Homo sapiens: one gene and its partner. The protein of the gene in region 2 interacts with the protein of the main gene of each other region in a pairwise test. Each region holds a gene or a part of one and is shown on either strand. Other genes may lie near its edges.

Evidence for each region.
Region 1: the proteins of SHC2 (region 2) and FLT1 interact in a two-hybrid assay, tested with the Homo sapiens proteins (2 studies listed by BioGRID).

What each region holds. Positions count from the first base shown.
Region 1 is NC_000013.11:28,493,084-28,496,982, reverse strand, and holds the start of FLT1 (vascular endothelial growth factor receptor 1 isoform 1 precursor), read left to right. Parts: upstream 1-1,854; 5' UTR 1,855-2,139; coding exon 2,140-2,203; intron 2,204-3,899. UniProt on the Homo sapiens protein: Tyrosine-protein kinase that acts as a cell-surface receptor for VEGFA, VEGFB and PGF, and plays an essential role in the development of embryonic vasculature, the regulation of angiogenesis, cell survival, cell migration, macrophage function, chemotaxis, and cancer cell invasion.
Region 2 is NC_000019.10:459,125-463,023, forward strand, and holds the start of SHC2 (SHC-transforming protein 2), read right to left. Parts: upstream 1,910-3,899; 5' UTR 1,873-1,909; coding exon 1,405-1,872; intron 1-1,404. UniProt on the Homo sapiens protein: Signaling adapter that couples activated growth factor receptors to signaling pathway in neurons. Involved in the signal transduction pathways of neurotrophin-activated Trk receptors in cortical neurons.

The DNA of each region.
Region 1 (3,899 bases), on a different chromosome or scaffold from region 2:
GTGTGTCTCTCCTGAGAAGCCCTCCTTGGGTTTTCCCTGCCAATAAATGTGCCTTTACTTCTCTGAGCTGATGGAGGACTAAACACCCCTCCAGCACTGGAATGCCGGTCCTGCAGCCACTTCAAGTGTCCACCTTCTTATCACAGTCCAAGCCCTTTAGAAGGCAAAGATGATGGCTCTCCATCAGTGTTTTCAGCCCTAACCCAATGCCTGGCCCCTGTTGAATGCTGCAGAAGGACAATGCTGACAGCTTCTCCTTGAAAGAGGGTGTGGGAGTGACAAGCAGCTCTCAGGTGAGACCAACAGACACTGTGGCTCCGCACGTATGTCCCAGGCTGTGTTCTGGGCTGGGGGACCAGCAAGGAGAAGGATCAGCTGTCCGCTTCCAGCTGTTCTGAGGGATGATGCTGTGGGTTTTAGAGGAGGCAGGGGTGCGGGAGGCAGAGAAAGGCGCCAGGAAGAGTGGTGAGGAGAACTGGAAAAACAGAAAGCGCTGGTGAAGCCAGCAGGCAAGCAATGACTCCGGCAGTCTTCCTTGCCTCTGAAGCAGAAGGGATCCAGGGACAGTTAGTGGCTCAGGTCCTGCGGCTCCAGGTGCCCAGACGTGCATTTCCTGTGTGGAGTGGCCGGGGCCTCTCCTTGGTGTGCAGCCCAGAAATGTGGCAACTTTGGGTTACCCAACCTTCCTAGGCGGGGAGGTAGTCCAGTCCTTCAGGAAGAGTCTCTGGCTCCGTTCAAGAGCCATCACAGTCCCTTGTATTACATCCCTCTGACGGGTTCCAATAGGACTATTTTTCAAATCTGCGGTATTTACAGAGACAAGACTGGGCTGCTCCGTGCAGCCAGGACGACTTCAGCCTTTGAGGTAATGGAGACATAATTGAGGAACAACGTGGAATTAGTGTCATAGCAAATGATCTAGGGCCTCAAGTTAATTTCAGCCGGTTGTGGTCAGAGTCACTCATCTTGAGTAGCAAGCTGCCACCAGAAAGATTTCTTTTTCGAGCATTTAGGGAATAAAGTTCAAGTGCCCTGCGCTTCCAAGTTGCAGGAGCAGTTTCACGCCTCAGCTTTTTAAAGGTATCATAATGTTATTCCTTGTTTTGCTTCTAGGAAGCAGAAGACTGAGGAAATGACTTGGGCGGGTGCATCAATGCGGCCGAAAAAGACACGGACACGCTCCCCTGGGACCTGAGCTGGTTCGCAGTCTTCCCAAAGGTGCCAAGCAAGCGTCAGTTCCCCTCAGGCGCTCCAGGTTCAGTGCCTTGTGCCGAGGGTCTCCGGTGCCTTCCTAGACTTCTCGGGACAGTCTGAAGGGGTCAGGAGCGGCGGGACAGCGCGGGAAGAGCAGGCAAGGGGAGACAGCCGGACTGCGCCTCAGTCCTCCGTGCCAAGAACACCGTCGCGGAGGCGCGGCCAGCTTCCCTTGGATCGGACTTTCCGCCCCTAGGGCCAGGCGGCGGAGCTTCAGCCTTGTCCCTTCCCCAGTTTCGGGCGGCCCCCAGAGCTGAGTAAGCCGGGTGGAGGGAGTCTGCAAGGATTTCCTGAGCGCGATGGGCAGGAGGAGGGGCAAGGGCAAGAGGGCGCGGAGCAAAGACCCTGAACCTGCCGGGGCCGCGCTCCCGGGCCCGCGTCGCCAGCACCTCCCCACGCGCGCTCGGCCCCGGGCCACCCGCCCTCGTCGGCCCCCGCCCCTCTCCGTAGCCGCAGGGAAGCGAGCCTGGGAGGAAGAAGAGGGTAGGTGGGGAGGCGGATGAGGGGTGGGGGACCCCTTGACGTCACCAGAAGGAGGTGCCGGGGTAGGAAGTGGGCTGGGGAAAGGTTATAAATCGCCCCCGCCCTCGGCTGCTCTTCATCGAGGTCCGCGGGAGGCTCGGAGCGCGCCAGGCGGACACTCCTCTCGGCTCCTCCCCGGCAGCGGCGGCGGCTCGGAGCGGGCTCCGGGGCTCGGGTGCAGCGGCCAGCGGGCGCCTGGCGGCGAGGATTACCCGGGGAAGTGGTTGTCTCCTGGCTGGAGCCGCGAGACGGGCGCTCAGGGCGCGGGGCCGGCGGCGGCGAACGAGAGGACGGACTCTGGCGGCCGGGTCGTTGGCCGCGGGGAGCGCGGGCACCGGGCGAGCAGGCCGCGTCGCGCTCACCATGGTCAGCTACTGGGACACCGGGGTCCTGCTGTGCGCGCTGCTCAGCTGTCTGCTTCTCACAGGTGAGGCGCGGCTGGGGGCCGGGGCCTGAGGCGGGCTGCGATGGGGCGGCCGGAGGGCAGAGCCTCCGAGGCCAGGGCGGGGTGCACGCGGGGAGACGAGGCTGTAGCCCGGAGAAGCTGGCTACGGCGAGAACCTGGGACACTAGTTGCAGCGGGCACGCTTGGGGCCGCTGCGCCCTTTCTCCGAGGGAGCGCCTCGAGGAGTGGCTGGCCTGGACCCGCGAGCATCAGCGCTCAGACCGGGTCCGCGCTGGGGCTGTCCGTTTGCGACAGGATCGCTGATCCCTTATCCAGCTGTCGGGTTGGGGTCTCACTGCCGAGGCCCTGGGCACTAGGAGCAGCACGCACCGGGACCTGCCTGGCACCCAGAGCCCATTCCCAGAGGACCTGGGGCAGGTACGCAGGGTCCCCCGGAGCCGGGAGCAGAGGCTCCTGAAAGCCTGCCAGGCTGCCCGGGGCTGGGCTGAGGCCGGGACTTTGGTGATATTGGGCACTGGCCGCGACCTCGCGTCACGAGAGTGTAGGAGGGGAGCCGATTTGGAGGGGACTCGTGCCTGCGGGGGAGCAGGAGGATCTCAGGAGAGGGCCAGCGCCGGCATCCCATGACCCGCTTGAGTCCCCAAGCCGGACTGTCCCGGGGAACGCTCGGCGAGCGCCCGCTCCTCCCCGCCGCTCTCGGACCGCGGGGCCCCAGTGCGCTGCGCTCAGCCACCCGGGTGGGGCCTCTGCCGGGAGCAGGCGTGGTGCGCGGTCCAGTCCGTGTCGCGGACATCAGTGACCCTGACCCACAAGGGCAGCCCAGGGCCCAAATACCGTTAACTTACTGACTTACAAGCCTAGCCTTTAAAATCCGAGCGAAGAGAGGGCGGGCGATTTTGACCAAACGATGTGGTTTGAGGAATCGATGAGGTCCGCCCGCCACCTAAGTCAGCCTTCGCTGGGCGTTTGGGAGACGGGCGGTGGAACAGTCAGGGGCCGGGGGTTTTACCAGCAGTTAGACCGCCGCCATTGAGGGGTCAAAGCCCCGAGGAACTTGAGGGTTCGGACTCGCAGTCTCTGCTCAGTGGGGCTGAGTGGCGGAGATTTGTGCCTCGTTCCCCTGGGCGCAGAGAGCCAGATTTCGGAGCGCCTTTCTTTTAAGCATCGTGGAGAAAAGGTAAAATATGAAATAAAATATAGTAATATAAAATAAGTCATTGCAATGATTCCCGGGAAGAAAAGTCAATAGGATGGAGCGTAGTACAACAACAACAACAACAAAAAGCTTGTTAAACCCAAAAAGCAGTAATAATTAAATATTCTTTCTCAGTGGGAAGACTAACTAGACCGTCAGTTTCCAAGTAACAAGTAATAGTTCCAATTAGATTGGAGAAACTACTAAACCCGGAGACAGGGCGAAGTGGTAACTTCTGAGAACTCACTGTAGGTTGGGAAAGGTGCTAACATAACTATATTAAATAAAATGTTGTATTTTCTATTTCACAAATACATTTTTTGTTTTGAAAAGTCACTTGTATTAAAATATAATTGCTTAGAGAATTTAAATACCTCACTCGACTATTATGTAAAGATAAATCTAGCTAAATTACATGAATCTAAAATTACGGAGGGAAAAGTACGTGATTTATTAGATTTTCTGCTTCACATAATTATATCTTTATTTTGAAAACATGCTGACTTTAGTGAAGCATCGTTT
Region 2 (3,899 bases):
AGGTAATAAGGTCAGACTCCTACGGCACAGGAATTGTAGGGGGACCCTTCTCAACTCGGTGTAGGGGGAAGGACCCCACTGAACCCAGCGTAGGGGGAAGGACCCCACTGAACCCAGCGTAGGGGGAAGGACCCCTCTCAACTCGGTGTAGGGGGAAGGACCCCACTGAAGCCAGCGTAGGGGGAAGGACCCCACTGAACCCAGCGTAGGGGGAAGGACCCCACTGAAGCCAGCGTAGGGGGAAGGACCCCACTGAAGCCAGCGTAGGGGGAAGGACCCCACTGAACCCAGCGTAGGGGGAAGGACCCCACTGAACCCAGCGTAGGGGGAAGGACCCCTCTCAACTCAGCGTAGGGGGAAGGACCCCACTGAACCCAGCGTAGGGGGAAGGACCCTTCTCAACTCAGTGTAGAGGGAAGGACCCTACTGAACTCAGCGTAGGGGGAAGGACCCCACTGAACTCAGCGTAGGGGGAAGGACCCCACTGAACTCAGTGTAAGGGGAAGGACCCTTCTCAACTCAGTGTAGAGGGAAGGACCCTACTGAACTCAGTGTCCAGAAAAGCAAAGACACAACCCAATGTGAACACAGGCTAATGTTCCTGGCCGCAGAGGCCGGGAGGAGCTGGGAGCACCCACCGGTAGTGGCGTGCGGGAGTGGCTGATCATTTTCCCAGACGCCGTAATGACTGCAGCTGTAGGACAGCTGCTCTCTCAGAAGACGGGGGACTATGCACGGCGCTGTCACCCCTGCAGGTGACTTCACACGGTTTACTATAAACCACAGAGAGGGGCAGACCCGTCAGCAGAGGGGAAGGTTACCCTCCTAGGTGGAGGCGTGCTGTGTCCAGGCGCCCGACTTCCCCGTGTGTTTGAAAAGGTTCATTTATCATAAGACCCAAGGTAAATAAACAAAGGCCGCTTCCTTGGCCGCCCTGGAAGTCCCTGCTGCCTCCCATCTGGAATCCTGGGGTCTGTCCGGGCGCCAGCCCCTTTCCAAACACCCCTTCCCGCACCCCCACCGCAGGCCAGCGTCTCGGGCCCCGTCTGTCATTCGTGAACAGCTGTCCGGGGGGCTCCGGTGGCAGAGACGCCCCGGCCGCTCGCCGCTCTCGGCCTCGCCCGCCCAGTCCGAGTGGGGGGCGGTGCACCTGCGCATGCGCGCCCCTCCCCCGCCGCCCTCTCCCCGCCCCTCCCCACGTGACGCCGTGGGAACCCGGACCCCAGCGCCTCCGGGTGGGGGCAGCCGCCGGCCGCCGGCCGGGGATGGGGGTCCGGGGTGGCGGGAGAGCAGGAAGGATGGGGAGGGGACACCTGGCTCGCGGGGTCCGGGGGTCCCGGAGGAGAGGGTGGGGGAGGGGAGGCCGCCGCGAACGGGCTCCCGGGGGGGGTGGGGGGGACTCACCCGCACGACGTAGGAGACCCCGGGCCCCAGGACCCTGGCGTCGGGGTGTAGCCAGCCGTGCGCGGGTTTGTGGATGAAGCTGCCCTTCCGGATCCACTCGGCGGCGGCGGCGGCGTCCCCGGACCCCGCCGCCCCCCGCCCGCCCCGCGACCCCCGCGACCCCGCGCCCCGACAGCGGCTGAGCGCGGGCAGGGGACAGGGCGCGGCGCAGCGGGGCTCGCAGGCGCCCAGGACGGCGGCCGCCAGCGCCGGGACGCCCCCCGGGCCCGCCGGCTCGGGTTGGGGGTCCGCGCCCCCCGAGGCCCCAGCCGCCCGCGCCGCCGCCGGGCCGCGGCCCAGGAAGCCGCCCGGGGCCGCGAACTTCCACTGCGGCATTCGGGGCAGCAACGCGCAGAAGGTGGTGGGCGCCTCGGGCTCGGGGGGCGCGGGGGGCGCCGGGGGCGCGCGCCCGCCCGGACCCTGCGTCATGGCCGCGGCCGCCCGACGGAGCCCGACCGGGCGCTGCGCCTGGCGCGGAGGAAGCCCTCCCGCTCCGCCCGCTCCCTCCCGCCCCCCGGCCCGGTGATGTCATCCGCCCGGCCCAGCGCGCAGCCGCGGGGGGCTGCGCCCCTGGGACCCCGGCCCTCCTCGTCCCGGAGCCTGGCCGCGAGGCTGGGGAAACTGAGGCCCTCCGAGGACACCGGGCGCTGGCCTGGAACCCGCAGCCAAGGCGGGACGGGGCTTTGAACCCAGAACCCCGTCAGCGACCCTCCCCGCTGCGCCCCCCACCCCCGCCCGCCGCCCAAGTTCGCAGAAGGACCGAGCTGGAGAAGCTTAGAAATTCCACATCCCTTCTTTCCCCTATTTCCTAGTGGGGAAACTGAGGCCCCGGGAGGCGCGGCCAGGGAAAAGAGAACCCCAGACCCTAAGGTCAGCCCCTCCCTCTCCGTTGTTGCAGCTAGAAGGTACCTTAGGGTCACCCCTATTTCTTAGTGGGGAAACTGAGGCGCGGGGAGGGGAAGGGGCGCGGCCGAGGGCTCACAGACGAAGCTCAAACCCAGGAGTGCCGGCTCGGGGGTGGGGGGGGGGGGCGGGGCTAGGAGCGGAGCCGGGCCCCTGCTCTGCGGCCTGTCCCGGCCTCAGTTTCTCCGGCTGTAACTCAGGGGAGCGGGCTGGAGGGTCGCGGCCCTTCTTCCCTCACTTCTGGGGAGCCCAGTCCCGCACCAGCTCATCTGAGCTCTGGGCCTCAGCCTCCCAGGCCGGTCGCTCCATCCCCAGCCTCAACCTCTCCGAGACCGGCCGCACCTTCCCTGGCCTCAAGGGTCGGTTCCTTCTGCACCAGAAAACGGGGTGTCACTGTCACCCCGGGACCCAGCCTCCTGGCCCGACTTGGCTGGAGCTCCCCTGCACCTGCCCCGCCCCAAGCAGGGCTGATTGCCGGGAACAAAGGGAGGGGCCGGGACGCGCTGGCAGGTGGGGAGGGAGGGAGGGGCGAGGCTGCCCGGAGCCCGATCGATAATTCAGGGGATGAGATCACAGCCGGCGCCGCCCGCGGGGCCGGGGAGGTGGGGGAGGGGAGCGAGGCGCGCGGTCGCGATCGGCCGTCTCTGCCGCGGCGCGTGTCGGACTCAGCCCCTGCGCGTCCGCGGGAGGAGCAGATCGTGGGCGCGATTGGTCGGGCTGGAGCCGCGGCTGGACCTGCGCGCGGTGTGTGTGTTGTGCGCAGGGTGTACGCTGTGTCTGGGTGCGTGTCCAGGCATATGCAGGGGATCCAGGCTGCTGGGTCCTGGGGTGTGTTCACCTAATGGGTAAAGGGTGGGACAGGTTTGGCGGCCCTAGGCTGAGGGCTGTGGGCTGAGGAGAGAGCAGCCCCACCACCCCCTCTCTGCGCCCTGCATGCCTCCCAGGCTGCATCCCTCAGGGAGGTCCCGGGGCAGTGTCGCACCCTCCCAAGCTCCGGGATTAGGGTCTTTCTGGATGGGAGGTTTGTAAGGTGGTCCAGGTGCCATCCCTCCCTGGCACACAGAGGGCTCAGTCACACGGCACCCCCGGTGTGTTTCCTTCCTGTCCCTTGGAGACAGTGGCAGGAACTCAGTCCAACATCCAGAGTTCAAATCCTGACATCAGACTGAGGTGGGGGCTCACAGCATGCCCCAGGACAAATGTCCAGTCTCTCCAAAGCACCATTTCCTCTCAGTAGATGCCCCTGGTCCTGAGTTGCTATGAAGCCTAGATGATCTTTATTAATATCCAAAACATAGCAAGCAGCTACTGATGGCAGATATTAGAATACCTCAAGCTCCTATACATCCTTCAAAACCCAGCTTCAATATTGCCTCTTCCAGGAAGCCTACCTGGCTGCCTGCTCAAAAGCTTGGCTCCACCTCCGGCCTCCCCTCGCCCTGGGTCTCTCTTCTGGTCTCTCAGACCCCCTGGCCACTGGAGGGCTACGGGTCTGGCTCTGGAGGGCGGCGTTCGGGTCTCTTTTCTGTGACATCAATAGACACGTTAAGGCC